Regions from separate parts of the Homo sapiens genome. Here region 2 is linked to region 1. The links come from fine-mapping of genetic effects on gene expression. A gene starts in region 1. The other region holds a variant in brackets. All regions are shown on one strand. Distances are from middle to middle. Region 1 holds the start of KSR2 (kinase suppressor of ras 2). Region 2 overlaps KSR2 (kinase suppressor of ras 2).

What was found.
Region 2: its variant is fine-mapped to the expression of KSR2 in thyroid (GTEx, PIP above 0.99).

The regions. Positions count from the first base shown.
Region 1 is chr12:117,967,602-117,970,513 of GRCh38, reverse strand. It overlaps KSR2 (kinase suppressor of ras 2), which reads left to right and starts at 1,524. Exons shown (of 20, transcript NM_173598.6): 1 at 1,524-2,438. The coding sequence starts at 2,259. RefSeq lists silencers at 1,122-1,231, 1,242-1,511.
Region 2 is chr12:117,566,601-117,569,512 of GRCh38, reverse strand. The region is part of intron 7 of KSR2 (kinase suppressor of ras 2); the gene reads left to right. Among named protein-coding and RNA genes, the nearest start is that of NOS1, 210 kb to the right of the region's middle. The variant G/T (reference allele first, on the strand shown) is at 1,677.

The sequences.
Region 1 (2,912 bases):
GGGCTCTGTTCACCTAAAGAAAGAGGTGCCTTTTGCTAATCATTCTAAATACATCTGTTGGGCAATGTGTGTTGGGAATACTATTAGATAAGGTGGTTAGGGAGATGAGGCCTCTCTGAGATGATATTTGAGTTAACAGTGACAAGAAGAAACCCACCAGGAGAGGATTAGGGTGAAGCATGTTCTGAGCACTGTGGACATAGAGTACAAAGATTTAATCAAGAGTCAGCAAACTTTTCTGTAAAGTGCCAGACAGTAAATCTTTCAGGTGTTGTGAACCACCGGTCTCAGCTGCAGCTACTCAACTCTGCTTTACAACGCAGGAGTAACCACAGACAATAAACAGATGGGTGGTGGTACTCCAATAAAACTTTACTTGTGGACACTGAGATGTGAATTTCACATAACTTTCACGTGTCACAAAATGTTATTTTCATTTTTTTCCAACCATTTTATTTACATTTTTAATTTTTGAATTTTTAGTAGCGACAGGGTCTTGCTATGTTGTTGCCCAGGTTGGTCCCAAACTCCTGGCCTCAAGCGAGCCTCCTGACTGCCTCCCAAAGTTCTGGGGATTACAGGCATGAGCCACCTCACCAGGCTTCCAAAAATTTCAAAAGGTAAAAACCATCTTAACTGTGGAGCCATCGTTTGCTGATATAACGTCAGTTAGGTATGCTGGGGTCAGGCCACACAGACACTTGTAGGACATGGGAATACTCAGAATAAGGCAAAGGCCCTTTTCCTCGCCAAATGGAAAGCCATCAGGGCGGGCCAGGCTACCAAGTCTAGGAGGCAGCTTCCTGAAATTCACGGAAGATCATCAGGTTCGCTTTATTTTTTCCCCAGTAACAAGAAAGGACAAACGAACAAAAAAGGCACACACACACAAACACACACCCAAAGGACAAACGAACAAAAAAGGCAAACACACACACACACACACACCACCCCCGAGCTAAAGACAGACGGGATGTGCCCAGGTTCACGCCGACGCCTCTCCGGCGCGCACCGAGGGTTTTAAAGTTGGGCGCACACCTGCTCCCAGCCGGAGCGCACCTGCTGAGCAGCACTCCGGCCCGGTCTCGCGAGAGCGGTGCAGGAGTAGTGGCCCCCACCCGCTCCCCGCCACCAAATCCCTCTCCCCGCCCCCTCGCCCAGCCTCCAGGCTCGGGCACACTCCCGGCCTCCCCCGCCGCCCCCGGGAGCAGGCTGGGCCCGATGCGCGCGCTGTCTCCGCGCCCCCGCCCGCCGATCGCTCGCTTGCTCGCTCGCACGCACTCCCGGTAGTAATTTCACTTTGCCACGCGAGCTCCGCAGCCCCTAGAAATCCCGCCCCCCGGCCAGGTGCGCGAGTCTGCGCGCTCCTCCTCCGCCTCCTCCGACGGGTCCCTGGCGCGCCGGGGCCGGGGCCCGGCTGGGGCGGCTGCGCGCACGGCGCCTCTCCACCAACCCGCTCCCCTGCAGGTCCCTCGCTTGGTCTCCATCCCTCTCCGGCGCTCCCTCGCTCCCCCCCGCCCTTTGATTGACAGGCAAGATGTCGGTGTGGAGCGAGGCAGGAGCGATTGCAGCAACCGTCACCCCCGGAGCCCGGCGGCGGCAGCAGCAGCAGCAGCAGCAGCGCGGGGAGGAGACAGCAGCCAGCCGCAGTAGCCGCCGCAGCCGCGGGAGCAATGCAGACAGCACCTTGAGAACGCGCTAAAGCACTCCAAACCGTGGACCATGCCGTGTCCCTGCAACTGGGAGGGGGGAAAACCAGATTTTTTTTGACATAAAAGCAAGCCAGCCAAAAATATATAATTTTGTCCTTCAAGGAGCCGGTGTGTAAAGAGTGAGCGCTATTTTCCTTCTCCTCCTCCTCCTCTCCCTCCTCCTCCTCTCCCTCCTCCTCTCTCTCCTCCTTCTCCTCTTCTTTTTCCTCCTCCTCCTCCTCCCTAAGTGTACAGACAGCATCACATCACCTGGTTTGCTTCTGAGAAACAGCATCTCTCCTTTTCAGGGACCAGAGACTCAGAGAGAGAGGAGACATTCTAATGGAGTCCGCTTGATATCCCAAAATAAAATAATAAATTTTGGCTCTTGTCCCCTCCTCCCACTCCCACCCCCTCAACCCTGTGTGAGATGTTGGATTTCTTCTTCATGAGACATTGTTGAGAAGTCGCAGTGGTTGGAGAGGCGGAGGGTAGACTACCTCTACTCCCCCCCCTCTTTTTTCTCTCTGGGAGGAGGAGGAGGGGAAGGGGGTTGCAGAGCAAGCGATGGATGAGGAAAACATGACGAAAAGCGAGGAGCAGCAGCCTCTGAGTTTGCAAAAAGCCTTACAGCAGTGCGAACTGGTCCAAAACATGATAGACTTGAGCATCTCCAACCTGGAAGGGCTTAGGACCAAATGTGCTACCTCCAACGACCTCACACAAAAAGAAATCCGGACCCTGGAGGTAGGTGTTGCCTACGGGAAAAAAAAAAAAAAAAAAAAAAAAAAAAGCAATCCTTCTTTCCCCCTCCTTTCTCCCCACGGTCCCCTTTCCCTCTGATTCTGTTTATTGGGGGCTGGGGGTGGTGGTGTGGGCAAGCAAGGTGGGCACGGTTTGCTTTTCTGTGATTTCTCTCCTTGCAAAGCCTGCATTGGATATCCTTTTACTGTGCTGCTGTCGTCTGCGCTTGGCTGGGTGGTGGTAGTAGTAGTAGTAATTGTTATTCTTTATTTATTATTATTGTTGCGGCTGTTACCGTTGTCATTCGCTTCCTCGCTGAGGAGGGAGTTCTCTCTTTTTTCCGCTTGTGGATTTGTTTATATGCCACGGGGGCTTGTGTGCCGGGTAATACATTAAGGAGCTGCAGAGAACCCACGTGACCTTGCGCATTCTGCAGGTGGTCAAAAGGTGGTTTTTGCTCACAGAATGGGGCCGCCT
Region 2 (2,912 bases), 400 kb after region 1:
GTTTGGAAGCCTGAGTTAACCAGCACAAGATTTCCAGTGTATTTCAGTGGTGTTTTCATGGCCTTTATACGAGTCCTCTTTCCTCCTGCCTGCAGTGGCTGGCCAGACATGCTTGTACCTACTTCTTTTTATGTAAACAGTCACTTTAATAATTTTTACTTAAATAAGCCATGCACTTCTCAATTGACTTTTGCCGTGTTAGTGGATCTTTTCACTTGGGTTTGTACACATCAAAATCCAAGTGAAAATGTCAAATAACACAGCAAAACCAAGCACATCTTGATTTTCTCTCTTGCCCTGTGCATTCTGCTCTCCTATGTTCTTGCAACAAAATATATTTTACCTAAAAATGTCCAATTTTTTTGCAAAATCGCTGCAGCCACAGGTGATGAGGAGATAAAAGTGTGAAGTAAGCCATGGCTGGTTTGAGCCACCATTGCACTAATTTACCCAGACCTTAAAAAGTGGGGAAATGATGAGTGCTGATGTCGCAGCTGCTGCGAAGTTCCTGGAAGCTTTGGGAGTTTGTACAACAGGCAGGATATTGGCAGGATATAATTATGAGCAAGTATTTCAGAGATCACCAGCTTGAATCTTGAACTTACTTTTCTATTAATAGAAACACTTCAGTTTTTGCAATAATTATAATGGGAGTTAATCATCCTATATATGCGTTTTTACCTATGATAAGCAAAAATTTAGGTCTAATTATAGTTGTATCTGAGGGATGCTTATAATTCTACTGGGGGCTGAGGTGGGATTAGATGTGATAATGATGATGATAATTATGATGATGCTATCATGTATTGGGGGCTCACCCAGGTGCCAGACATTTTGCTAAACACTTTACATGCATGATCTCATTTAATCCTTGCCACAACTATGGAAAGTAGGGTCTATTATTACCCCCATTTTACAGACGAGGAAACAGAGGCCTTCAGAAGTAAACAGCCGGCTCGAAGTGTCACGGTGTGTGGATCTGTTACTCAAACCCACTGATCGCTCAGATTCACGATCCCAGACTTTTAACCGCTTTACACGGGCAAAGGGCTGGCTACACAGCAGGCCGGCAATAAATGCTACATGTCACTCTGCTTGCCCTTTAACTAAACAAGCAGAACAGAGTATAAGAATTTGGTCTCAATTCCAACCTGGACCAAAGCTTTTCCTCATCCCTCCCCCAGCCTGCCACATGCTCCCATCATCCTTTCTTGAATTGAAAGATGACAAATGGATCTTTGTGTTCTGATGAACACCTCTGGGTTCAGAGAGCCAAGAAGACTCTACAGTCGCTTTCTTCTTTTTCAGGGAAGGCGAGGGAGAGGAGAGGAGGGAGGGTACAGCAAGTAATACATTTACAGCTTCCCTTACAGTGTCCTTTTATGGAGAGAAAAGTGCTGGGGGTTCCTGGTGATTTTTCATGATGTCCTTGGAACCCGAGGTCTGATTTATATGTCAATACTTCCTACCGCCCTTTGCTCATTTGTATTGTGGTTAGCTATAGGCTAAAGAGCTAGACCCCACTGAGTTGTTAGCAGTGAGGGAAAGGGTGTTTTGATATCCTGTACTTGGAGCATACGGAGGCATTTCTAGAAGCACTGGCTCAAACAAGAGACCACAGGGGAACTCACATGAGACCAGAATGCTCAGTTGGTATGCAGTGAACCTGCACTTTT[G/T]GTTTTGATATCCTGCACTTGGAGCGTACGGAGTCATTTCTAGAAGCATTGGCTCAAACAAGAGACCACAGGGGAACTCACATGAGACCAGAATGCTCAGTTGGGGTATGCAGTGAACCAAGCCCTGCTGCAAAGGGGGCAAGGATTCGGTTTCGTGATTTTTTTTTTTTTTTTTGCGAGAAGCCTTCAGGAACACTTAATGCAGTGACCTGGAAAAGGAAAGCAGGTACAGAGAGTAGGGAAGATAATGAGAGGGGAACTTTGCTGCCCTTTAATTGCAAGTTTCTGCTGCCAGAGGGTGTCTTTTCAAAATGCTTAGCCAGCATTCCCCTCCCTGTTTAAAATCCTTCATTAGCTCCCCCTTGCTCTCGGCGAAATCCAACTTCATGACGAGACCGCGCGCCATGTTTGCTTACTCCTCTGTCCCCTCGCATCTCTCCCCTCTTCATGCCCAGAGCTGCAGCTTCTCCGAGCCATCAATCCCCGTGGCAGGTCATGTGCCCACTCATTGACATGTCTTTGCACCCCATTGCTACTGCCTGGATCTTTCTTGCACACCTCTGCTGGCTCTCATTTATCTTTCAAGCTCAGCTCAGCCACCACTTCCCTCCGGGAAGCCTTCCCTGACTCCCCTCAAATCTGAAGTGCCACCTTCTGCCCTTTTCTGTCACACCATATTACATACTACTATGTTTTATTTGTCTATTTACCTGCCTGTCTTCCTGACCAGACTTTAAACTCTTTGAAGGCAGGGCCATCTCATTTCTGGACGGTTCACTGTTTAAACCTCTAGCGCCAGCACAGTGCTTGGCACACATGGTAAATGCTCAGTAAATACTTGTTGCTTGAGTAGATCTCAGTAGGGACCTCTGCAGAGAGAGCGGTTCTTGACAATATAAGCTCCCCAAATCTGGTTCAAATCCAGCTGGGCTCATTTATAAGAGGCAATTTGGGCGCAGTAGGATGAGTAGAGAGATGTTCATGCTTGAAGCCACAAGAGATGGGTTTACATTCTTGGACAGTAAATTTCTTGCTAGACTGCAAGATCTTTAAAGAAAGAATTCTTGTCTTATTTAATTATTATACCTCCAGTGCCTAGCATAGCCCTTGGCACAGAGGAGGAACACAGTGTCTTCTTGTGGGCATGCAGGGATGAATTGTCCCAATTCTGCCCATCACTATCTGAATGACTGAGCTTGTTACTGGACCCCAGTCTTCTTGACTTAAAAATGGGTA